Linked DNA regions of Homo sapiens. The protein of the gene in region 1 purifies or fractionates together with the protein of each later gene. This does not show direct contact. Each region holds a gene or a part of one and is shown in the gene's direction. Other genes may lie near its edges.

Region 1 (4,284 bases):
AAATGAGCATCAAGTTCATATTGCTGACTTACACTCCAGAATCAATCCTGGAGGGGAGAAGGGAAAAAACATTATCAACACTCAACAAATTCTACACAGCAAAACATGATAGAACCCTAAGCAGACTGCAGAATTTCGAATTGGACCTTGTGTTTGGAGTAGGGGGAGTGGAGGACAACAGTGCATTTGCGGAGGTCCGCAGCCTGCATAGACGGCAAATAAGAGGACGAGTAGGAAGAAATATTTGAATTTCTGGCCCTGCTTTATTGCACAATCTGAGGCAACACTTCATACCACGATGCCAGTAGCCCAGTAGCTCTGGAGTGATATCAGGACAGCAGGAAAGACGGGGTTGATTGAGGGAGTATGACTCCGGAGTCTATGCTGCTAACCACCTAAAACCACCACAGTGACGACTGGTCTTAGTTGATCCTCTGCTACAAGTTAATAATTCTTTATATTAAATTTTCTTGCTCAGAAAAAAAGAGAAAAATTATTATAATAGAATATAAAGAATAGACCAGAAATAGAATAAGCAGTGAACCACACAGCGTAAGGTAGGTATTCTTTCATGAAATGTTATATATGTATTCAATATACACTTGGCAGACATTTAAAACACATATTTTTACTAGGAATGAGGGTTAGAAAACCAGACATCACTGCATTGGACTATAAAATATCAGCTAAACTCAAAACAGCAGGACCTCTCCACACCCCGATGCTCAGCCTCTTTCTTGTAGAAAATATACCCTTTAGGACAAAAAGTTTGCCAAGTCTACTTGTGGCTTGGGAAGAGCCCCGTTGGGAAGGTGTGCGTCTTCTCCCATAGGTCATTACAATCACGGGTGTTGCAGCTCCCCAGGGACCATCTGGCCTGGGAACCGCACCCATGCTCTGCAAGGGATGCAGCTGGGCAAATGATCAGAGGTGACGGAAACTGAGCATCTCCCACCCATCACTTCATCAAAGAGACAAAAGCCAGGAGGAAGACCCTCCTGAGTGAGGACCGAGGGTCCACCCACCCCTCACAAAGGGGCCACAGAATCCAGCTGAGCCCCTCTTGTCAGCCCTGGAAGACCCTGGCAATGTTGTCACCCCTACCACAACCCTCCCCTCACTGCCACCTTGGAAGACTCCGAGTCAAGAGACCTGGTTTAAGGGGAGAAGACATCCTCAGCACAAAACAGGGGTCCAGGCTTTTCCAGGCATCAAGGTCGAGACACTGAGGGATGACTGAAAGACCCCACCCCCACCCCCACCACGACCCACAGCCCCAAGATCCCCATCCCAGTTCCCACCTCCACGCCCCTCCCCACACTCATCTTCACCACCACCCCTGCCCCAACCCCATCCTCACCCGTACCCCACCCCACCCGGACTCCCACCCTCACTCCCACCCCAACTCCCACCCCAGTTCCGGCAGAATCCACTCCGCCCCTGCTGTCAACCCAGGGAAGCCCCGGGGACCGGATGTGACGCCACTAACTTACGCCTCGGGGATCAGAGAGAAGCGAGGTTCTCGTTCTGAGGGACAGGCTTGAGATCGGCTGAAGAGAGCGGGCCCAGGCTCTGTGAGGAGGCAAGGTGAGAGGCTGAGGGAGGACTGAGGACGCCCCCAACCCAGATAGAAAGCCCTAAATAATACAGCGCTGCCTCTGCTGCCAGCTCTGGACCACCTGAGGGCAGACTTCTCAGGCTGGGCTGTCACCCCCCCCCCACCCCCGCCCCCACTCTCTCCCGCCGCTTAAGCCGCAGGGGACTCTGGGAGTCAGAGCTTGGTGTGACCAGGGCCCGGCTGGTTCGGCGGGAGCCGCGCCTAGGTTCTGCCAGCATCAATGTCGGGACGCTCAGGGAGGGCTCTGCCCCTGATGTCGGCCCTGGGAAGCCCTGGTCATGGCGACCAGGAACGCAAATTCTGACGTCGGCATCTGAGGCTGACGTAGGGAAGGGGATATTGGTACCAAGAATGCGGCTTCAGGGGAGCAGAGGGAAGGCCCGGGCCCTGCTGGGAAATGAGGGAGGCATGAAGGGATCCCAGGACAGGGTGCCCACCCCACCTCTGTCTCAGACCGAGATGTCTCTTCACTCGGCCTGAGGAATCCAAGGGACGGTGACTCAGGTCTGCGGCGGGGCGTGGTAGAGGAGAACAACCCAGCCAAGAGTCAAGGGGAGGAAGAAGAGAAAGGACTCAAGGGACCTTGGAGTCCAGATCAGTGGGGACCTCAGCCCTGGGTGGTTTCAGGCACGGTGGCCCATGTGATGTGTCTTTGCTGTGCCTTTGGGGTGTCAATGAGGAGAGGGCTATGGTCTGAGGAGTGGAGCCTCAGGTCAGCAGAGGGAGGAGTCCCAGAGCCCTGAGGGAGGACTCAGCAGATCCCCGCATCTCAGAACTAGGAAATCTGTCCCTCTTATCAGCTCTGGAACCCCAGGCAGGACGGTGAGGAAGAGAAGTGGCCCCCACTTTCTCACCGGGGATCCCAGGGAGATGGTGGCTTTGGCGTGCAAGACCCATACACGATTCAGCAGGAGGGAAAGGGCTGGGCCCTGTCGGGAGTAAATCTGAATACCTGGAGGACACCCAAATAAAGGAAGTCCCCGTCTTGTCCCCCTCCCCTGCCCACCACCCCCCCCCCCCCCCCCGCCAAATGTCTGCTCCTTCTGTCAGCTTTGGGAATCCCATGCAGGTGTGATCGTGTGGTGCCCCTCCCCACTTCTGCCTGCCGGGTCTCAGGGAGGTGAGGACCTTGGTCTGAGGGTTGCTAAGAAGTTATTACAGGGTTCCACACTTGGTCAACAGAGGGAGGAGTCCCAGAATCTGCAGGACCCAAGGGGTGCCCCCTTAGTGAGGACTGGAGGTACCTGCAGCCCAGAAAGAAGGGATGTCACAGAGTCTGGCTGTCCCCTGTTCTTAGCTCTGAGGGGACCTGATCAGGATTGGCACTAAGTGGCAAGCTCAATTTTACCACAGGCAGGAAGATGAGGAACCCTCAGGGAAATGGAGTTTTGGTGTAAAGGGGAGATATCAGCCCTGGACACCCCACAGGGATGACAGGATGTGGCTCCTTCTTACTTTTGTTTTGGAATCTCAGGGAGGTGAGAACCTTGCTCTCAGAGGGTGACTCAAGTCAACACAGGGAACCCCTCTTTTCTACAGACACAGTGGGTCGCAGGATCTGACAAGAGTCCAGGTAAGGAACCTGAGGGAAATCTGAGGGTACCCCCAGCCCATAACACAGATGGGGTCCCCACAGAAATCTGCCATGACCCTACTGTCACTCTGGAGAACCCAGTCAGGGCTGTCCGCTGAGTCTCCCTGTCTTATACAAGGATCACTGGTCTCTGGGAGGGAGAGGTGTTGGTCTAAGGGAGCTGCACTCGGGTCAGCAGAGGGAGGGTCCCAGACCCTGCCAGGAGTCAAGGTGAGGACTGAGGGGACACCATTCTCCAAACGCACAGGACTCAGCCCCACCCTACCCCTTCTGTCAGCCACGGGAATTCATGGGGAACTGGGGGTAGATGGACTCCCCTCACTTCCTCTTTCCATGTCTCCTGGAGGTAGGACCTTGGTTTAAGGAAGTGGCCTCAGATCAACAAAGGGAGGGTCCCAGGTCGTATCAGGCATCAAGAAGAGGACCAAGCAGGCTCCTCACCCCAGTACACATGGACCCAGCTGAATATGGCCACCTCTTGCTGTCTTTTCTGGGAGGACCTCTGCAGTTGTGGCCAGATGTGGGTCCCCTCATGTCTTCTATTTCGTATCAGGGATGTAAGCTTTTGATCTGAGAGTTTCTTAGACCAGCAAAGGAGCAGGGTCTAGGCTTTTCCAGGAGAAAGGTGAGAGCCCCACGTGAGCACAGAGGCTCCCCACCCCAGGGTAGTGGGGAACTCACAGAGTCCAGCCCACCCTCCTGACAACACTGGGAGGCTGGGGCTGTGCTTGCAGCCTGAACCCTGAGGGCCCCTCAATTCCTCTTTCAGGAGCTCCAGGGACTGTGAGGTGAGGCCTTGGTCTAAGGCAGTGTTTTCAGGTCACAGAGCAGAAAGGGCCCAGACAGTGCCAGGAGTCAAGGTGAGGTGCATGCCCTGAATGTGTACCAAGGGCCCCACCTGCTCCAGGACAAAGTGGACCCCACTGCATCAGCTCCACCTACCCTACTGTCAGTCCTGGAGCCTTGGCCTCTGCCGGCTGCATCCTGAGGAGCCATCTCTCACTTCCTTCTTCAGGTTCTCAGGGGACAGGGAGAGCAAGAGGTCAAGAGCTGTGGGACACCACAGAGCAGC
Region 2 (3,500 bases), on another chromosome or scaffold:
AGATATAAACAGGAATGGCTGGAAAATGAACAATATGCTGTGTGTTAAACGACTCATTTGTGCTTAAACATATGATTACCTTAATGGAGTTGCACTGATACCTTAAAGGGAATATATTTTTATATGGAAAAGTGACTTAGGTGTTTTCTTGTTTTAGTACACTTATTTTAGTGGTCTGCTTAATGAAAAATACAGCCTTTTTTGGCTGATTCATACTGCAGCAAGCAATATTATAATTAATGTTTTAAAGTAGTTACCATCCTAGTCTATAAAAGGTATCTGCTATGTACCTGGTCCTATGCCTGTAGTCTTTGGGAATAACAAGGAAATATGACTGCTGCGGAGGAGTTGGTATGTTTACTTAAGCAGGAAAAATTGAAAAACAGTGTATATAATTACATATTAAAATATGTAACAGATAATGAAGATTGGAGAATAGATCAGAGTGTGTCCAAGTTTGAAAGAGCCAGAGCATCCTAGAATATATTATAGCTGGAAGGTAATTTAGATATAATCTTTGCTAAAGGTTTTGCTTCACAGATGAGGAAATATTTTCACAATGGTTTAGTGACTTGCTCACAGTCACTTAACTATTCAGTAACAGATAAGAACACAAGACTTCTAACTTTCTCCCACCTCCCAGTCTCTCCTCCTGCCCCATTGCTGTCAGTCAGAGAAGGCTTTATGTAGAAGGCGAGACTTTTAAACCGAGCTTTAAAGGGCAAAAAGAATTTAGAGGAATGGGAATACAGAGAAGGCCATTGAAGGGGAGATTGTGTTCAACATTGTGATGTATAGGTAAAGAATGAGGAAGCATTTGTTCTATCTGCAGGAAAGCTGTTGGAGGATTTTGAAATAGGGACTGATGTGATAAAAATGGTGTGTTAGGAGTAATGTGGTGTGCAGGATGGTTTGAAATAGGAAGGGAGAGATTAGATCCATAGAAACCAGTGTATAGAGGTATTTGGTTTATTAACTAATTACTGTAGGTGCTACTAGAGATACAAACATAATTTAAAAATTACTTGACCTCAAGAGACTTCCAGTCTAATTTATGAAATAGATAAGTCGTGATAAAGGTGTTGAGGATATTGTCCAATTACATTACATGGAATAAGGACGTTTGGGAGAAATTCTTACCTGGCCTTTACAGTAGAAACTATTTGTTTTTAGTCTTATGGACACTGAATTGTCTAATTGACTTAGTTTCCTTTTCAAATCAAACTACAGTTTGATTTGGTCAAATTTAGGTCAGATTATTAACCTGAGAAGCACATGCATAGGCAATTACGTTTGCATTTCTTAGCCTGATTAGTAGATCAATTTTTTGTCCATGCATTTGTTTTGTATTTCTTGTATTGCTTCCATCTTTAAACTCTTTTTATCTTGTTTTATGTGGGCCACCTTACATCCTTTCTGGAGCAAGGCAGGTATAAATAATATTACCATAACCATGGCACAGTGATAATGTCTGTATTTTTATAGTACTTTAAAATTTATAGCCACATTCTCATTTTCATTACCTCAGTTAGTCCTTTCAGGCAAGCGTTACTATACCCATTTTATAGTCGAGTAAAATAAAACTTAGATTAAGTGACTTTCTCAAGGTCCTGTGTTTTTATAAGCATTAAGTGTGGGTAATAGCAAGACTTCCAGCTTAGTTGTTATTTAGGCTGTGTATTAAGGCACTTTGGGGCTCTATTGTGGAGAGCTCTGAATCCTTTGTGTTGGTGTAAGAGTTTGGATTTTATTTGCTAGGCAGTAGGAAGTCACTGAATTTTTTTTTTTTAATTTTTTTTTGTTATGGACAGTGCCATGATCAGAGCCCTTAAAGTTTAGCAGCTAATTAGATGCAAAGAGATTATCAAGGTTTTGAGTTTAGGTTATCCAGAAAAGAGCATTACCATAAGCAGATGTAGGGATGTTGGGAAAAGGAGCCATTTGGGGAGTAAGTCAGTGAATTCACTTTGACATGTCATTTGAGACATGTTTGGGTGGGTCTTATTGGGTTGTAGATTCCTTGTGAAAATTGAAAATTTTTTAGTGAATTAAATGTTTGATAAACATTAATACTAGGGTTGAAATTTATGCTCATGCCACTGTGCGTGTGGACTGAGTATTGAATCTGAACGTTGTAAATTCTAGATATCTCATTTTGGCTTTGGCACTGTCTTCTAAGGTTATTTCCTTCAACAATACGATGGTGATAATACCAGTGTTAGAGGGATGCTGTGGGGAGTATCAAATTGATAGCAGAAGCATTTTTAAAGTAACTCTGTAATAGTTTTTCTTACATGAGCACAGGAGTAAAATCAGGAATTTTATTACTTGTGCTGCTGTAGAGAAGCAGAAGCTTTAGCAGCCGATGGATTCTGTGGGGCACCTGACTGTAGGTTGTTCATTTTTTGGTGCAGCCAGCATCTTAGGAGGAATGGACACTCCTAATACTCTTCTGAAAACTTTATACAGTGGAGGTGTTGCATTGTAGCAAATACAACTTACCTTGATTTCAGGGCATTCTGTTATCTAGCCCCTACCCTTGCCTATGCATTATTATCTTTACTACTTCCTTAAATAGCATGACTCAACAATTCCATCAAGGAAGTTCCCTTATTGTCCATTTCTACCACAAATACAGCATATTATCAGATTTTAATTTTTAAAGAAATTTCCCTAAAATTTGAAGATCTATCTTGGGAGGATGGCTATAATTTATCCTGAGACTTACCTGAGCCTTTCTCCCATTACCATCCTTGCAACACCAATCCCAGTTTGAGACACATGACCTGAATGTGTACCCAGTGTTTTGGTCAAGCCAGTGTGTTTGGGACGTTGTGTGAGAACCTTTACTCACACTTTTTCCTCCATTGGAAGGCCATGGTGTATGGTATGGTAGAGTGAAAAAAGGTACTGGGGGGTTCAGAGACCTGGCTTCTCTGTCACTAATTAGCTTAGTAACTTTAGGACAAGTTACTTCACCATGGATTTTTTTTTTAATTGCATTTGTAAAATAAGGGATTTCAAACTTTTAAAAGCCTTTGGTGTTCTTTTTTAAAGGCAAAAGTGGAGCTGTTCTGATTAAAATTGGATATTGGAGCAAGAAAAGCATTTTCCTCCTCCTTTCCACAGTAGCTTTTGAGGCACTTTCACAGGGTCCTTAGGACTTCTGCTGGTCATGACTTGAAAACTTTTGTCCTTATTTATCTTAAGGGACCTGTCTGTCCATTTCTTTATCTCCACAAATAGCCATCTGTCAAATCTGAGCTCCTGTCATACTTTCTCTGAAATTAGCACTTAATTTGTGTTCAGTTACCCAATTCAGCACTTCATTATACACAGTCCTATTTTCTTCTCTAATTGATTATGTAAGTAAATCTTGTCCTAAGAGCCTTGAGTGCAGGAACATACTGGTAGGGACAGAGTAGGCCTAGACATTTAACAAATAATGAATGCTTGGTTGATGGACTTAGTGGTTCTCAATCTTTGTCACCATGGGGTGA
Region 3 (3,500 bases), on another chromosome or scaffold:
TAAATGGTAGAGAGGTAAATAAATGGTAAAATACAGTGTTAGAGCTCCTTTACAAGGAAACTGTGATAATTCCTTTTTAAATCAACTTCCAAATCTGCTTTGTAAATTCAGAAATGTGTAAATTCAGTCTTTTTAAAGCAATGAATAATACTTTGCAAATTATATCATGCACAGTAAAAAGTAGAAAGCAATAACAGGAGTAATATGAACTCAAAGATGCTCCTTATTTCATTCTTATTCTTAAATAAAGTATGTTTTATGGCTGTTTACAAACCAGTTTTCAAATGACTGGTATGATTTTGACTTTCTTGAGTCTACCCAAGAGCAAAAAGGTTGGCAGTGGTGTGGAGAGAAATACAGTGGACTTGCATATCCCATTAAATGGTTGTTAAATGTCTTAACTAGTTGAGAATTAATTGTATATTAGCAGTTGTTATTTTTGTTTTGTTTGTTTTGAGATAGAGTGTCATTCTGTCACCCAGGCTGGAGTGCAGTGGCACGATCTCGGCTCACTGCAACCTCTGCCTACCAGGTTCAAGCAATTCTTCTGCCTCAGCCTCCTGAGTAGCTGGGACTACAGGCGCATGCCACCATACCCGGCTAATTTTTGTATTTTTACTAGAGATGGGGTTTCACCATTTTGGTCAGGTTGGTCTCAAACTCCTGACCTCAGGCGATCCACCCACCTCGGCCTCCTAAATTGCTGGGATTACAGGTGTGAGCCACCGTACCTGGCCATATTAAGTTTTTTGAGAGAATTAGAAAACTGGGTTTCCTCAACTCCAAGATGTTATCAGTTGTAAAATGTACCCGTATGTTTTATACCACTAAGAAAGAAAAATAAGCCTCCAATTAAGCAACATGCCATCAATTGTAAAATATAACCAGAGGGGGGAGAAAAGTAGTGTTTAGCTGGGATACCTCCCTACTCCCTGAAAAACAAGTCAGGGTTTTATTAGTAAATGAAAATGGGAGAATGGATATTTGGTGGCAGTCATGATAACCATTTCATTTCTATATCATTATTAACCTCTTAAAATATCCATCTTAAGTACATTATGGCAAAGCTTCTTAAAATGGTGGCATTGGAATCTCAAGAAAGTCTCTTCTCATCCTACTCCTTACACAGTTGAAATTAATTGTTGCTGCCTCCTTTCTGTATCTTTTTCTTTGGCTATCATTTCTTATCCTTTTAATCAATAAATTCAACAATTTGATACAATCAGATAATTATTTCCTAAAGTTTGACTTAGAGTTAAGCATTGTACTTAAAAAGCTACAGGGTAGTCTTTCAATTAAAATTTATCTTTTAAATTCCATAGGGACCAAGGTATTTGTTGATAGCTTCAGGTCTGATAACTTAAACAAAATGTTCTGGCATCTTGAAAAACAAACTGCATGGAATTTATTCCAGCTTCTCTTCCAAAGGTGTCATGGCCCCCCTTCCTTAGGTCAATTTTGACACTTACCTATCAAGTTTTCAGAAATGCAATGAGTTCTTGCTTCTTCTGTTGTGTATGTGTTAGTGATAGGAAATTTTTTGGTCTCTTCTTAGATAATAAATATCATTGGAATATTTTTCAAACTGTGACTAAAATGTCTTTGGCATTCTCCATTGTACTTTTTATATATGTTTATGCCCTCCCTGTCTTCTGTATCTGTAAGGAATGGACCTGACATTAAGACTTCTCCATAGAGCACATGAGTAAGGATTTACTAACGAACTACATTAAACCCTTGATAGCCCTGAACAAGCATCTAAAGAATCACTCCTCTCTGTCTTTAATAAGTCATGGTAAAAAGTATGGGTAGGTAAGTTTATGACTGTATTTTAATGTTTATGAATATGATTAAGATGGTCACACTTTGAACAGACTCACAAAATAATCTTCAACTTGTTAGTGGTTTCATTTTTTTGAAAACGGAAATTCTAAAAATTACTTATGGAATGTCTGGTGTTTGGGGGATGATGTCAGAAATGAATCTGTTCTGTTGGCCTCAACCCCACATCAGACTCATCAGAGTCTGCATCTCTTTTCCTTTTTCTGCACATCTACTTTTGTTTCTTCCTAAGTGCCCAGTAATGTAAGGAAGCAAGTTCTAGTTCCCCTGTAGAGCTATAAAGCTATAAAGGAGACTGAACATTCACATTACTTTGCAGAAAGGTGCTTATGAAAATTCAGAGACTTGGCGGCTTTGGAAGATGGCTATGTAACATTAAAGTATGTTCTCTTCTCTAATGATTTGATCATTTTAACAGTATGCATTAACCCACAGGATTTCCAGTAGACATTTTCAATTGAATAGGAACGGCAATAAAACAAATTACTAAAGTGACTATAATCCATTTATATGTCTATTATTTATATGTAATATATATATACATTTACAGATGCTATATTATTTTGCTTGTAGGTATCATAACGTGATTCTAGTTCTGCCTCCTTAACTATTCTTATTTTTATTTTTTTTAGAACACTGATATTTGCATTTAATGGGGAACAAAAGATGAAGAAGGAAAAGGAATATATTCACTAAGGATTCTATCTGCTTACTGCTACAGACCTATGTGTTAAGGAATTCTTCTCCTCCTCCTTGCGTAGAAGTTGATCAGCACTGTGGTCAGACTGCATTTATCTTGTCATTGCCAGAAGAAATCTTGGACAGAATGTAACAGTACGTCTCTCTCTGATTGCGATGGAAGGTGATAAACTGATACTCCTTTATTAAAGTTACATCGCACTCACCACAGAAAACCATTCTTTAAAGTGAATAGAAACCAAGCCCTTGTGAACACTTCTATTGAACATGACTCATGGAGAAGAGCTTGGCTCTGATGTGCACCAGGATTCTATTGTTTTAACTTACCTAGAAGGATTACTAATGCATCAGGCAGCAGGGGGATCAGGTACTGCCGTTGACAAAAAGTCTGCTGGGCATAATGAAGAGGATCAGAACTTTAACATTTCTGGCAGTGCATTTCCCACCTGTCAAAGTAATGGTCCAGTTCTCAATACACATACATATCAGGGGTCTGGCATGCTGCACCTCAAAAAAGCCAGACTGTTGCAGTCTTCTGAGGACTGGAATGCAGCAAAGCGGAAGAGGCTGTCTGATTCTATCATGAATTTAAACGTAAAGAAGGAAGCTTTGCTAGCTGGCATGGTTGACAGTGTGCCTAAAGGCAAACAGGATAGCACATTACTGGCCTCTTTGCTTCAGTCATTCAGCTCTAGGCTGCAGACTGTTGCTCTGTCACAACAAATCAGGCAGAGCCTCAAGGAGCAAGGATATGCCCTCAGTCATGATTCTTTAAAAGTGGAGAAGGATTTAAGGTGCTATGGTGTTGCATCAAGTCACTTAAAAACTTTGTTGAAGAAAAGTAAAGTTAAAGATCAAAAGCCTGATACGAATCTTCCTGATGTGACTAAAAACCTCATCAGAGATAGGTTTGCAGAGTCTCCTCATCATGTTGGACAAAGTGGAACAAAGGTCATGAG
Region 4 (3,226 bases), on another chromosome or scaffold:
TCTTTGTGGTCTAGTCCAATGTCTTAATATTTGTGATATTAAACAGTTTTATATCACATTAAGAAAAATTATTTAAGTAAATTTACCTAAGGTATCTTAAAAGTATAAGAAAAATTTCTTAGCAAAGCCAAGAAATTTCTCATATATTGATTTATAACTAATGGTATAAAAACATTTTTTGGTGTCCATATTTTGATAATACCCAACATTAATATTTTAAAATTGTTTTTATTTTAATTTTTTAAGGTAGAAATATGATTACACCCTAGACATTTTTATCACAGCATTCTTTTTGTATATGAAGCACCTAGAAAGTCACACTGATGAGAAAAGTAGAACATCAGTACTTTTCTACCAAAAGTCCTACTTCTGCTGTTTTAAAACTTGCCTTGATTTCTAATTTAGACAATGCTGGCTGGACGCCTTTGCATGAAGCCTGTAACTATGGCAACACAGTGTGTGTCCAGGAAATTTTGCAACGTTGTCCAGAGGTAGATCTGCTCACTCAAGTGGACGGGGTGACTCCTTTGCATGATGCACTGTCAAACGGACATGTAGAAATTGGCAAGCTGCTACTACAGCATGGGGGTGAGTGTGTTTATGCTAAATGGGTTTTGATAAATTATCCAGTTTTTTGATGAATCCTGCAGAGGTAGATAGCATTTTATGTTTAAAATCTGTAAGGAAAGATGCCTTTATTTCATATTAATGAAAAAGTAAGGATAAAAAGTCTCCTAAAACGTAAGCACCTTTTATTATTAGAGATAAAATCCTTTTCATAATGTATATTTGTTTATGTATATATTATTAAGCCTATTTAGGTTCGTGTATGAGAGTCTGTTTTTGAATTGAGTTTGCTGGTTTTAAATATTTATCTTTTTCCTTCAGGTGTGTAATGTCTTTGTGAGCCAGTCATTTCTGAAAGCTTATTGATAAATGGATATAAATGTTCAATTGTGATTACCTGGATTTTTTCATTTCCTGTATGTAACTACAAACTCAATCTTATTTTTAATGAGTCATTTCTGTACAGACTGTAAAAAAATGATATCCTAGAATATTTTTCGTCATTCACATTTTGCAGCCAATTAAGTTAAAGCAGGAGGATTTTCAAATGGTGATAACTGTTATGCAGGGGTTTTGTGAAGGAGGTAACTTGAGCTGAATATTCATCTGCGTTTTTCCTGCTGATTTTTGATCTTTGCTTTCAGCAAGGCCCCACATTATTTCAGTGTCATTCTTCTTATATCTAAACTGAATAATATAAATTTTACAACAAAATGTTCAAAACGGATTGGTGCTTTTAAAAGAAAAAAAGAAAACTGATGACCAGCTTAGAATATGGAAACAAAGATTTGTAGAAATTACTTGTCGTTTTTATTTGTATTAATTTTACATTTAAATTTAACATTATCTTATCCTGTAATTAAAACATTTGATTGTGCATAAAGACAAAAAGCGTATTTTCTTAAGATGTCTTTTTAGTATATATGCATCTAAGGAAGGCTGTATAGCATGGGAGTTTAAGACATTTGGTTATATATAGTCTTCTCCTGCCCCCTAAAGGCCTTAGTGTGTCTGTTTTACTGATATCATTTCATAGTCAATGTTTTTCAGTTCTTCTACCTTGTTTTTTTTAGTATTCTGTGTTTACTAAACCATAAGTTCTACCTCCTTAATGTTTTATTTTTCTACTCAGCCGTGTGTCTGGCATTCAGGCCAATATTTGTTAGGAGCCATTATTGTATTAGGTCCAGCTCTTCAGTAGAGTATGGCATTATACCAACCAATGTGAATTTTTCTAGGGCTCTTAGTGGAGAATAGTAAAGAGATGAGTTTCTCCTCCTAGAAGAGGAAATCTAATTGTTTTTGTTTTTATCAAGGTCCTTTGGCAGTCGTACAGACTTGTTTCTGCCTTAGTCATATTCTGGGTTTGGACCTGTCAAGTGGTTTGACACTTATATTGAAGTAACTGCATTATCTATTCATTGTGAGTCACTCAGCCTCAAGAGCAATAATTTCAAGAATTTATTTATTTCTCTAAAACGTTTGTTTACTTTTGGTATCCTGTGTCCGTAATTTTGTCTTTTTTTTTTTTTTTAAACAGAAGTAACTTGGAACAATTTTTTTGAGATGTTGGCACAGTGAAAAGGAGCCTAATTTTGTTTTAGAATTATCTTCTTTCCATAAATTATACATTAATCATATTATCAATGGTTGATCTTTTATATTAAGTACATTTTATATCTATGCTACTATGTATGTCTGATCAGAGTCATCATTATGAATTTTAGCAGTTATAATCAGTTCTCTCTTTCTGACAATATGATCTATGTTATAATTGTAGGACCTAGTGATTATGTCTGCTAGTACTAAAATCTTTATATCCCCTGTAACGTTTTTATGGCCAAGTGCATAAATAATTATAAGACTTGACTGATGAAGGCAAAAGTACTCCTATACTTTGCTATGTAACCAAATACTGAGTTATGTTTTGCCTTCTCCACATCATCCTTTAGTACTTAGTGGATAAACTCTATCTTTAGTACTTTCTAAGTAGGTAGTTAAATGAGTTTAACTAGTATAGATGGATGAGATCTGAGTTTGATCTAGAAGAATTAATATGTAATTTGTGTGAACCAGTTACCTGTACTAAACATTGAACACAAGCAAGGGTAATATGAAAACTGTTCTCTATCTGTGCAAGGTTTTGTAGTCTTTGCACTGCTAGAATTGTTTATTAGCAATGAAAGGGGCACTACTTTTTCCTCTTGGTGATATTTTGAGATACCCCTGAGGCTCTTGTATAGAATTTATAAGATGAATAATACATTTTTAAGATTTCTTCTGGGAACACTGAAATTCTTATTTTAAAATGACAGTTGATAAAGTTTTATAAAAGTTTTTATTTGTAGTTGTATTTATTATTTATTTAACGGAGGCATGCACGTTTGGGGAAACCTTATTAGGTAATTGACTAGAATTTTTTTAATGTACCTTTATTCGTCTATATATATAGTCAGTTAATTGTGTCGACATGAATTAATACAAAATATGATTGCAAAGAAAGCACTGGATGCTTTGGGAAAAAGGAGAAAAGAGCTGTTAAGCTGCCAAAATAGAAATGTTTTACTTGCAACATTTTGCATTTTCTTTTCACAGGCCCAGTGCTTTTACAACAGAGGAATGCTAAGGGAGAATTGCCCTTGGATTATGTGGTTTCACC
Region 5 (3,500 bases), on another chromosome or scaffold:
TCTCACTTGAGTTTTTTCCTTAAGGTCTGACACCATGCCAATTTCCACAGACCTGTAACTTTAAGTTACCTTAAGCTGGGCCTGGTGGCTCACGCCTGTAATACAAGCACTTTGGGAGGCCGAGGTGGGAGGATTGCTTGAGACCAGCAACAACATAGTCAGACCACGTTTCTACCAAAAAAGAAAAAAAATTAGCCTGGTAGTGCACGCCTGTAGTACCAGCTACTTGGGAGGCTGAGAAGGGAGGATTGCTTGAACCCAGAAGGTTGAGACTGCAGTGAGCTGTGATTGCACCATTGCACTCCAGCCTGGGCAACAGAGTGAGTGAGACCCTGTGTCAAAAATAAAATAAAAACACCTAAATTTCATATGAAAATTCAGTTTGGAGTCACCTACAAGAAATAGTTGCTAGAAGAGTTTCATTTTTATAGTAGTATTTACTAGAGATTTGGTATATACTCTGGTGCAAATTTCTGTAGTTAATGCTCTGATAACCACTATAATTGTACTCTGAAAACCACTCTCAGTAAATATTTCCCAAAGTCCAAAGTCTTGATTATTTTGTTTGACCCTTTCGTTCTCACCTTTCTGTTTTTCTTTTCAGCTGATTTTTCTCATTTATGTAGGTAATTTTTGTCTTATTAGAGAGGAGTGAGTTGACTAACTTGCCTTGAGGAGAATATCACTTTGTGATTAATCAAACTATTCAGATATTATTATTACTGTTGTTTTGGAACTTCAGTATATTTGTAAGTTAGAGGCAGTAATTCAGCTGACATTTATTGCTAATGACCTCAGCCATTTGAAACATAACAGCAATCCTGGACATAAAAAAATCTCTAAGCCTTCAAAATGACTGCAACCAAGTATAATAAGCCATTAGCCTTTATTAGGAAACTACTAATTGGAATTAGTCCACAGATAAAAATCTTCAGTGTTGGCCATTGGAGTTAGGGACATTGGCAGCTGAAATGTCATCTACAGGGGAAAAGGAAGAACTATTAAAAAGTAGGTGGAACTATAGTAGAATAGTGTTTTAAGGCCATTACATAAATACATACACTCCTATAATCATTAACTTCTGAAGGAATGACAGTATCGTAGAGCAGCCTAGTAAGTTGATGCATCACAATGATAACTTTAATAATGAACTTTTATTCTGTGTACTATGTTTAAGGAAGTAAGAAATTGGTGTCTTTTGAGATTGCTATAAAAGTAACCATTTTCAAAACTCTGTTAATTAAATGTTAAGTTTCAATTTTCTGGAAAATTTACGTGTAGATCTCTCCTTATCAGATGACACCAAATAAAAATGGTGCTACTGTGTATGGAACTTCCTTTGTTTTATTATTTTAACCTATTTATCTTTCTACTTAATATTTCAAGGAATTACTCCCAAACAAGGCTCTATTACATTTAATATTTGATATCAGTAATGAACAACCAATTGCCTAAAGATTAGCACATTTGCTAATGGAGAAGATAGTAAAGCAGATAATTAGAATTAGTAAATGACCTATGCATATGATTCAGTTGTATAGTTTTGAATCCTGGTATTGAGTCTATTAGCCCAAGTGTCCTAAGGTGCCAGGTTTTTGTAGTGAGTTTTTTTCATTGCATTGCTGGCCTCCTCTGTCTCATTTACTATGTTAATTTAAACCTTATGCTTCCATTAGTGGTAAAGTAGATAGTCTTTGACTTGTGTATAAGGGGTGTGTATGTATTTTAATGATTTTGAAAGCTGGTTTGAGGAATTAGATTTTGGGAATTAATATAACAATTATTAGCATTTTGATATATTTCTTCCATTATTTTAATGTATATTTTTTATGTATTTGTGGGTAAAAACATTTAATTTCATGTCCTGCTTTTTAACCTACTGTTAGGTACCACTTTCCCATTCTCACAATGCATCTTAATAACTATCATTATAAATGATTGTAAAATGTTCTGTGCAGTGAACATATGTTATTCCCCTATGTGAAGAACATATTTATACATGTTTCTTGTATATAGTATTATCTCTCTCTTGTATATTGCCAGAATTGATTTTTTAGGTACATTTTGAAGGCTCTTAAAACATACTGAACAATATTAATCAAAAGGGATAAATTTGTATTCTCTTTCGAGTGGTTGTTACCCTATACTCATCAACATTTAACATTTTTTATAAAGGTTTAATGGGGGTGTATGACATATTGTGCTTTATTTATTTAATTACTGAGGTGAAGCATGTTTATAGATGTATTTATCTTGTGAACTTTGAAGATAAATAGATTTTAACATTATTGCAGTCAAACATCTTTTTGTTTGTTTGTTTTGAGACAGAATCTTGCTCTATTGCACAGGCTGGAGTGCAGTGGCACCATCTCGGCTCACTGCAGCCTCTACCCCCCGGGTTCAAGCAATTCTCCTGCCTCAGCCTCCTGAGTAGCTGGGACTACAGATGCACACCACCACGCCCGGCTAATTTTTGTATTTTTGTAGAGATGGGGTTTCACCATGTTAGTCAGGCTGGTCTGGAACTCCTGACCTGAGGTGATCCACTTACCTCGGCCTCCCAAAGTGCTGGATTACAGGGGTGAGCCACGGTGCCTGGCCCAAACATCTTGATATAATTTTGTTCTGCTGATTTTATGAAATTCCTCCCTTTTCAGAACTGTAATAAACAATATTGGTTTAATTCTGTTTGTTTAGTTTTTCTAAGTTAGATTTAAATAAATTTAAGTTTTTACCTCATCTGGCATTGGTGTGAAATGAGAATCTAAATGTTTTCCTCCAAATTGGTAATTTTCTCAACTCTGTTAAATAATGCTTTATTTAATTTTTTAATTTTTCTCATTTTTTTGTTATGCTTCATTTTTACATTTTAATCATTTTTATTTTAAATTGTTTATTTTTACCCCAAGCCTTAAGAACATTCATATTGTTTTTAGATGATTCTGTGATATGTTTAATATCTTTTGCCTTGGCTTTCTTATTGTGGTGTTTGTTTCCTTATTTATTTTTAAGATTACTGTAAGTTGAGGATAATAAAGTTTATTTTTTAACAAAACAATGTTTTATAATTCCTTTTCTTGTCAGCCAGAATTTGAAATAAGATTTTTCCATACCACATAATTTGGTTGCATTAAATGAAAATTTCCCCCTTTTTGAACAGAGATAAAATGTGAAACTACTTAAAAGTACTATGCTGGCCACAGTGGCTCATGCCTGTAATCCCAACACTTTGGGAAGCTGAGGTGGAAGGATCGCTTCAGCCCAGGATTTGGACACCAGTCTGGGCAACATAGTGTGACCTCGTCTCTACAAAAAATACACAAAATTAGCCTGGTGTGGTGGCGTGCGCCTGTACTTTCAGCTACTGTGGAGGATGAGGTGGAAGGATCACTTGACCCCAAAAGATTGAGGCTACAATGAGCCCAGATTGCGCCCCTACACTCCAGCCTGGGTGACACAGTGAGACCCTTGTCAAAAAACCCCCAACCAACAAGTACAGT
Region 6 (3,500 bases), on another chromosome or scaffold:
CCGTGTCTTCTCTGTGACCCATGCCTCTGTCCCTCAACAGGGCAGCCACACAGTGCCCAGGGTGGCTCATCCTTGTTGGCTTCGTCATTTACCAGAGGATTCCCCGAAACACATTCTGCTCTGGCTCTTCCTGGACCCAATTCCCTGGGTCTCATTGGTTCTGCCAACTAGACATGTCCAAGGGATGAGAGGCATGGAAGACATAACCTACGCTGGCGACCGGTGGCCAGGCCCAGTCATAAGTGCTGCTGAGGGGAAGCAGCCCCCACCCCGCTCCCTGCTCCACCAGGGCAGCTTCGGTTTCCCATTTTCCATTTTGGACCTCCCTGTAGAGTGTCTGTGCACTAAAGTTTCCACCTTCAAAGAGAGTCATAGAGCCCCTGACTCCGTCTACCGTCGTGCACCACAAAATCCGCACGTGGGTCAAGGCTGGGTCTTTGGTGAGCATTCGGTGTCTTGAGGACCCCCATCGGGACTTCTCTGGTCCTCAGAGCCTAGTGGGCGCATCCTGGTTAAGTGGTTCCTCCTAGGGGCTGTGGTCAGCTGTGGGGAAGCTGCTCCTGCCAGGTCAGGAGGTGGCAGTGGTGAGGCCTGGCTTGAGGAACGGGGCATCTGGGGTGGGATAAGGAGATCAGGGTCCCCCTTGGCACCCACGCTGAACAGGCCCCATGTGCTGCCTCACTGGCCATGCAGGTATCCCACGTTCATCGATGCCCTGCGGGACCTGGACGATGCCCTCTCCATGTGCTTCCTGTTTTCCACCTTCCCGCGGACTGGCAAGTGCCACGTGCAGACCATTCAGCTGTGCCGCCGGCTCACTGTGGAGTTCATGCACTACATTATCGCTGCCCGTGCCCTGCGCAAGGTGAGCCTGGGACTGCCCGGCTGGCATCCCACCCTGCCCCCTCTCCTGCCACCCCATGGTCTTCACCCAGATGTCTCCTCCTCTCCCCTAGGTCTTCCTGTCCATCAAAGGCATTTACTACCAGGCCGAGGTACTGGGGCAGCCCATCGTGTGGATCACTCCCTATGCCTTCTCCCATGACGTGAGTGTGCCTGTCGGGAGGGGACGGGCTTGTGCTGCCTCCTAGACAGATATGGATGTGGAGGAAGGGGGATTTTGCTGTCCATGGAGTTTAGCAAGTGCTGGGTTCCCAACTGTTGATGAGGGGTGAGGCGCGGCAGAATGTGCCACACAGCATCCTCATTAAGAGCGGGAGCCTAAGCTAGCCCTATGGCAGCACCTGCCAGCTGCGTGCCCTTGGACGTGTTCCTTTCACCTCTCTGTGCCTCAGTTAACAGTGTCTACACCCTTAACAGTGCCTGGTGCTTGGCCTTTTAGGGCCGAATAAACAGTGAGAACAGCTATCAGGGCCATACCCAGCCTGCATGCCCAGCACCATGTGGTGCCACCACGGGGACAGTGGCAGAGCCCTGCCCTCGAACCTACTGGGCTCCTCGTCCCTGCTTTGCTGCCGATAGCTGCCAGACCTTGGCCAAGTGGCCTTGCCTCCCTTCTCTGCTTCCCCCTTCCTGCCTCTCTGCCCCACAGGACTCGGGGACTGGGAGAGAAGGGGAACGGTGAGCACAGGAGAAGCACTTAGCATGTGGCACTGTTTCCTACATATATTGTTTTCTTTTTCTTTTAAAATAGAGATAGGGTCTCACTATATTACCCAGACTGGTCTGGAACTCCTGAGCTCAAGCAGTCCTCCAATCTCAGCCTCCCAAAGTGCTAGGATTATAGGCGTGAGCCACAGAGCCCAGCCTTTTTCTTTATCTCTTTGAAATCCTGGGAATTGTTGGCAGGGATCCACTGAGAGAAACCCTGGTTTTGCCCTCTCATGGAGCTTCTAGTGCCCCGCAGGTGGGCCAGGCTCTCCTGCCTCCCTGTGCTGGTGGCCTGCATTTAGCCCACCTTGCTTGATCATTGAGTGGGAACTGGTGCCTTCAGCGGAGAGCAGCCGCTGCCGGTCCAGTTAGCACAGTGGCTCTGCTGCCCAGATTATCAGGGGCTCCAGGGGGAGCTGGGACTCTAGGTGCCCTGGGCTGTTACTTATGATCCCTTGTGGGTGGGGTTGCAAGGACTGGAACCTACCCTGACTGGCTGTCTGGTGGTGAGGCTGTGGCCTGTTTGCGAGTGAGAGGCGGGCTTGGCCCTCAGCAGTCCCTGTTCCCTCTCCCCCTGGGGCACGTGTGGGTGGCCCTTCCTTCTTCCCTTCCCCAGCCCTCCTCTCCTCCTCCTTCCTTCCTGCCTTCCTCTTGGTCCTTCCTTCTCTCTGATGTCCTGCCCCCATGCTGCTCAGACTGGTCTTTGTGTGTCCTCCCTGGTGGTGAATAGGGCCCTGTGGTGGGCCGGCCTCCACACAGCTGGCCCTGGGGGAAGGGAGCCAGCCACGCATTCCCCTTTCCTCCTTGGCCAGTTCACTGCCGTTGCTTCCTCTCAGCGGATGGGGAGGACTGGCACTAGGTCGTAGCGGAGCCCAGTTGTGCCCCTCCTGTGAGCAGCCAGGGTTGGGTTCATAGCTGTGGAACTCAGGCTGGTTGTAGGGGCGGGGTCTCCCTGCTCAGTGCTGGGCTGTGGGAAATGGGGTTGGTCCCCAGATGTGCCTGTCAGGGGCCCTCACAGATTCTCATGGAAGGATGGCGGTGTGAGTGAGGGAACAGGCAGGGCTTCTCTTGGCCCTATGTGCTCTCACAGCACAGGTCACTGTCTGGCAGCAGAATAGCGGAACAGCTAAGAGTCATGGGCACACCCGGCACCCATGGTGATCACTACTGATTTTCACGTTGCTCGGAACATCCTGCCGCGTCCTGGGGGCCAAATGGGCTGGCTCGGCCTCCATGGTTTTAGGGGGCAGAACTGCTCAAGAGTTGTGATTCTGTCTGGGCCTCAGTTCTTTGCCCTGTTTTGCCCTATTAACTGCTCCAGGGCAAAGATGAGCCTTCTGTGTCCCCTGCTGCTGGGATGACAGCTCTGTGCCTTTTCCCTGAGCAAAAAGTAGTTTTGTCTGCTGGCCATTTCCCAAGAGCTCCCTGGGGGCTGAGCCAGGCCAGCTGCCAGCCTACCCTGGCCCCTCGGGTCATGCCTCTGGACCTGGCTTGGGCCCAAGGAGGGAGTCACTCAATTCTGAGTGTCCATCCCAAGGTTCAGAGGTGGGACTCAGTGGGCGGCCTGAGCCCCATGCTTCCCCCGCCCCCGCTGGGCCTGGCCTTCCCAAGGCACCTTAGTCAGCCAAGGTTTTGCCAGCCCCTCTGGGCTAGAGACAGCGCTGGGAGCACCACCCTCTGGTGCTCACACGCTAGCCCAGCAGCAGACATGCAGCAAAGATTGTAGACTAGGTGATGTAGAAGGCAGGAGCTCTGGCCAGGTCGGAAAGTGGTCTGTCCGAGTCTGAGCTAGACCTGAAGGAAGTGGGAGAGCCGGAGCAGGGAGGGGAGGGCCAGCCAGTCTTCGGAGCAGCAGGGACCAGGGTCCCTTTTCTCACTCTTTTATGGGG
Region 7 (3,500 bases), on another chromosome or scaffold:
TGACAGCTTCCAGGAAATGAAGAAATGGCTTGGAGATTATATTACAGTGTTAATTTTCAATTTGTCATGTTTCTTTAAATATTTATTTTATGACATTGAGGATACTTCAGAGAACCAGAATGTTGTAATAGAAAAATCTCTTCCTAAAATTGATCTTTCCATTTCCTCCTAGATGTCCAGTCTGTGAGGGCTTAAGACTATAGTTTTTTAGGGATTTAGTAACATTACAGATTAGCTGAGTTTAGGTTTTTTTCAGCTATAAAATGGGGATTTGTACTAGTCTATTGCATTGCTACAAAGAAATACCTGAGACTGGGTAATTTATTTTTTTAAAAAAGAGCTTTAATTGGCTCACAGTTCCACAGACTGTACAAGAATGGCATCAGCATCTGCTCAGCTTCTGGGGAGGCCTCAGGGAACTTATACTCATGGTGCAGGGTGAAGTGGGAGCAGGCACATCACATGGTGAGAGAGGGAACAAGAGAGTGAGGAGGAGGAGCCAGACCCCTTTAAACCACCAAATCTCATATGAACTAACTGAGCAATAACTCATTCATCAACAAGGGGATGGTGCTAGGCCATTCATGAGGGGTCTGCCCTGATGATCCAACACTTCCCACTAGGCCCCACCTCCAACATTGGAGATTGCATTTCAGCATGAGATTTGGAGGGGTCACACATTCAAACTACATCAGGATGCAGTCACATGTTTGAAAATATTTTGGATATATTAATATTTAGTAGTGTACTAGAGCTGGCTTGTACTGGAATGCACAAGAAAATTGTTAAATTTTCAGGAGTTTTGTGAGCTGGTTGTTCCATATGTTGGTAGCTTGAAGTTGACTAGCATGGCACCTGGTTACCTGGATAGCCAGTTCTGGACTAATGAGATGAAGTGTCACCAGTTAGGGCCTTCCTTCCTTGAAGAGCTGTTTGTGGAGCATCTACTTGCAAACCACTAGGCAGATTAAATAAGATGGGGAGCATAAGTGCTGGCACATGGTTGTGCTTCCAGCTATGGTTGAGTGTAGGTCAACAGATATTCTCTGGAAAGAAAACTGTTCTTTAAAAAGAGGTGTTAAGAATATATACATGAGGCCGGGCGCGGTGGCTCAGCCTGTAATCCCAGCACTTTGGGAGGCCGAGGCGGGCAGATCACGAGGTCAGGAGATCGAGACCATCTTGGCTAACACGGTGAAACCCCGTCTCTACTAAAAAATACAAAAAATTAGCTGGGCGCCGTGGCAGGCTCCAGAGGCTGAGGCAGGAGAATGGCATGAACCCGGGAGGCGGAGCTTGCAGTGAGCTGAGATAGCGCCACTGCAGTCTGGCCTGGGCGAAAGAGCGAGACTCCGTCTCAGAAAAAAAAAAAAAAAAAAAGAATATATACATGAGTGCTACTATTGGGCCTGTAATGAGAATTTGAATCTGTCATCTCAAGGGTCCTTAAAGCTCAGCTGGAGAGGATTCCTTGAAGCCAGAGGTTGGCAAACTATAACCCACAGGCCACATTTTGTCTGCTTACTGTATTTTTAAATAAAGTTTTATTGGAACAGTACTGCACCCATTCTTTAACATATTGTCTGTGGATGCTTTTGCATTATAGCAGAAGAAGGAGTAGTTGTGACAAACACCTTATGGCTCACAACGTCTAAAATATTTTCTATCTGGCCCTTCACAGAAAACTTTGCTGGCCCCTAATCTACACTGAATATCATCCGTGTACACATATAATACTCCAATTTCTCAAAATGCTTTACCTGCCTTTTCTGTCTTGTCTTCATAACTTGTATGTGTATGTGTCTCTGTGTGTATGTGTGCACACATGTGTATTTAGGACTCTGAAAATCCACAAATGTGTATCTTATTAGAACAAAGATGAGAAGCTTGGATGTGTCCCATCCCCACTGTCTTGAGAGAATAGCTCTGTGTAATTTTTTCCTGTCTCTTGCATCTCAGACCAATTTTCTGTCAGCACACTCGGCCAGGGATGAGGCGGCAAGGTTGGAAGAGCGCAGGGGTGTAATTGAATTTCACGTGGTTGGCAATTCCCTCAACCAGAAACCAAACAAGAAGATCCTGATGTGGCTGGTTGGCCTACAGAACGTTTTCTCCCACCAGCTGCCCCGAATGCCAAAAGAATACATCACACGGCTCGTCTTTGACCCGTAAGTGGTACTTTCTGTTCCTTCTTCCTTATTTCCTTTTTAAATGAAAGAGGAACTGCTTAGATAGTGAAAGTCAGCCATAGTCATCCACCGAATACTACTGCACCTGTCTTGCTGTGGATACAGAGCTTCACCAAGCTGATTTTCATGTCTGAAAGTGCTAAGAGTAATTTTCAACAATTTACAAATTTTCTTGTTAATGATGATGAAACTTTATATTTTACATTGCTGATGACTCTCCTGTGCTTCATTCTTTATAGCAGTGAGAGAATGTAACACTAAGATGTTCTGCTTTCTTCATAATCAAAATATTGGTTTTGGTATCTTAACTAGGTGCCATTATTGCCCAGGTCTGTGGGCAATTATTGGGATATAAGACAGGTTAACTTTGAAAATCCATTGCTTAAAAAAAAAAAACAAAAAACTAGGCCGGGCATGGTGGCTCATGCCTGTAATCCCAGCATTTTGGGAGGCTGAGGTGGGAGGATCACCTGAGGTTGAGAGTTTGTGACCAGCCTGACCAACATGGAGAAACCCCGTCTCTACTAAAAATACAAAATTAGCCAGGCCTGGTGACACATGCCTGTAATCACGGCTACTTGGGAGGCTGAGGCAGGAGAATTGCTTGAACCCAGGAGGCGGAGGTTGTGGTGAGCCGAGACCGTGCCATTGCACTCCAGCCTGGGCAACAGAGCGAAACTCCATTTCAAAAAAAAAAAAAAAAAAACCCACGAAACCCTAAAGAACTAAACTTCTCTAATTGAATTTATTTTAACATACATAGCCCAGTAGCCTATGGGGACTGTGATCCATGCCTGTGACAATTCAGAGTGATGCTTTAGACAGAGGGAAGGATTCCATAATGCGGAATTTTGCAAATTGTATATGTAAATTTTAAATTCTTTTTCATAATGTTTCTGTAATATTTTGGAGTAAGACTTAACTCTTCAGAGACACATACCATGTTTGTCCATGACTTCCTGCTCTCCCTGACCCCTCCTTGGCACTGGCTGTGCCAGTTCCAGAGCACCTCTGCACATACTCTGTTCTCTATTTGTAAACCTCAGGCACTTCTTAGGTGACTGGTATTTTGTTCTGATGGGAGTGCTGATGACATCTTGTGCAGGCGACCTAGCTCTAAAAAGTTCAGATAAAAGGATGGTCTAGCGAGATAGGGGCTACATGAAGGAAGTTTCTATAGAAACTTAGGACATGTCCCTCTTTCTTAGTTGGTTAATAAGGAACACCCCAAAAAGTATATTTATATAACTAGGATAGGTAAAACTTTGACATAATCTTATTCTTTCAGGAAACACAAAACCCTTGCTTTAA

What was found.
Region 2: the proteins of MAGEA10 (region 1) and POU2F1 purify together in Homo sapiens (affinity purification with mass spectrometry; 3 studies listed by BioGRID and IntAct, with this or other methods). This does not show direct contact.
Region 3: the proteins of MAGEA10 (region 1) and NRIP1 purify together in Homo sapiens (affinity purification with mass spectrometry; 4 studies listed by BioGRID and IntAct, with this or other methods). This does not show direct contact.
Region 4: the proteins of MAGEA10 (region 1) and SLF1 purify together in Homo sapiens (affinity purification with mass spectrometry; 4 studies listed by BioGRID and IntAct, with this or other methods). This does not show direct contact.
Region 5: the proteins of MAGEA10 (region 1) and ZZZ3 purify together in Homo sapiens (co-immunoprecipitation; 3 studies listed by BioGRID and IntAct, with this or other methods). This does not show direct contact.
Region 6: the proteins of MAGEA10 (region 1) and PES1 purify together in Homo sapiens (affinity purification with mass spectrometry; 4 studies listed by BioGRID and IntAct, with this or other methods). This does not show direct contact.
Region 7: the proteins of MAGEA10 (region 1) and KAT2B purify together in Homo sapiens (affinity purification with mass spectrometry; 4 studies listed by BioGRID and IntAct, with this or other methods). This does not show direct contact.

What each region holds. Positions count from the first base shown.
Region 1 is NC_000023.11:152,135,778-152,140,061, reverse strand, and holds the start of MAGEA10 (melanoma-associated antigen 10), read left to right. Parts: upstream 1-1,484; 5' UTR 1,485-1,587; intron 1,588-3,092; 5' UTR 3,093-3,191; intron 3,192-3,981; exon of another isoform or gene 3,982-4,072; intron 4,073-4,227; 5' UTR 4,228-4,284. UniProt on the Homo sapiens protein: Not known, though may play a role in embryonal development and tumor transformation or aspects of tumor progression.
Region 2 is NC_000001.11:167,227,386-167,230,885, forward strand, and holds part of POU2F1 (POU domain, class 2, transcription factor 1), read left to right. Parts: intron 1-3,500. UniProt on the Homo sapiens protein: Transcription factor that binds to the octamer motif (5'-ATTTGCAT-3') and activates the promoters of the genes for some small nuclear RNAs (snRNA) and of genes such as those for histone H2B and immunoglobulins.
Region 3 is NC_000021.9:14,967,501-14,971,000, reverse strand, and holds part of NRIP1 (nuclear receptor-interacting protein 1), read left to right. Parts: intron 1-2,474; 5' UTR 2,475-2,808; coding exon 2,809-3,500. UniProt on the Homo sapiens protein: Modulates transcriptional activation by steroid receptors such as NR3C1, NR3C2 and ESR1. Also modulates transcriptional repression by nuclear hormone receptors.
Region 4 is NC_000005.10:94,691,669-94,694,894, forward strand, and holds part of SLF1 (SMC5-SMC6 complex localization factor protein 1), read left to right. Parts: intron 1-405; coding exon 406-588; intron 589-888; coding exon of another isoform or gene 889-896; exon of another isoform or gene 897-3,153; intron 3,154-3,162; coding exon 3,163-3,226. UniProt on the Homo sapiens protein: Plays a role in the DNA damage response (DDR) pathway by regulating postreplication repair of UV-damaged DNA and genomic stability maintenance.
Region 5 is NC_000001.11:77,676,159-77,679,658, reverse strand, and holds part of ZZZ3 (ZZ-type zinc finger-containing protein 3), read left to right. Parts: intron 1-3,500.
Region 6 is NC_000022.11:30,581,911-30,585,410, reverse strand, and holds part of PES1 (pescadillo homolog), read left to right. Parts: intron 1-693; coding exon 694-865; intron 866-956; coding exon 957-1,046; intron 1,047-3,500. UniProt on the Homo sapiens protein: Component of the PeBoW complex, which is required for maturation of 28S and 5.8S ribosomal RNAs and formation of the 60S ribosome.
Region 7 is NC_000003.12:20,123,946-20,127,445, forward strand, and holds part of KAT2B (histone acetyltransferase KAT2B), read left to right. Parts: intron 1-1,959; coding exon 1,960-2,168; intron 2,169-3,477; coding exon 3,478-3,500. UniProt on the Homo sapiens protein: Functions as a histone acetyltransferase (HAT) to promote transcriptional activation. Has significant histone acetyltransferase activity with core histones (H3 and H4), and also with nucleosome core particles.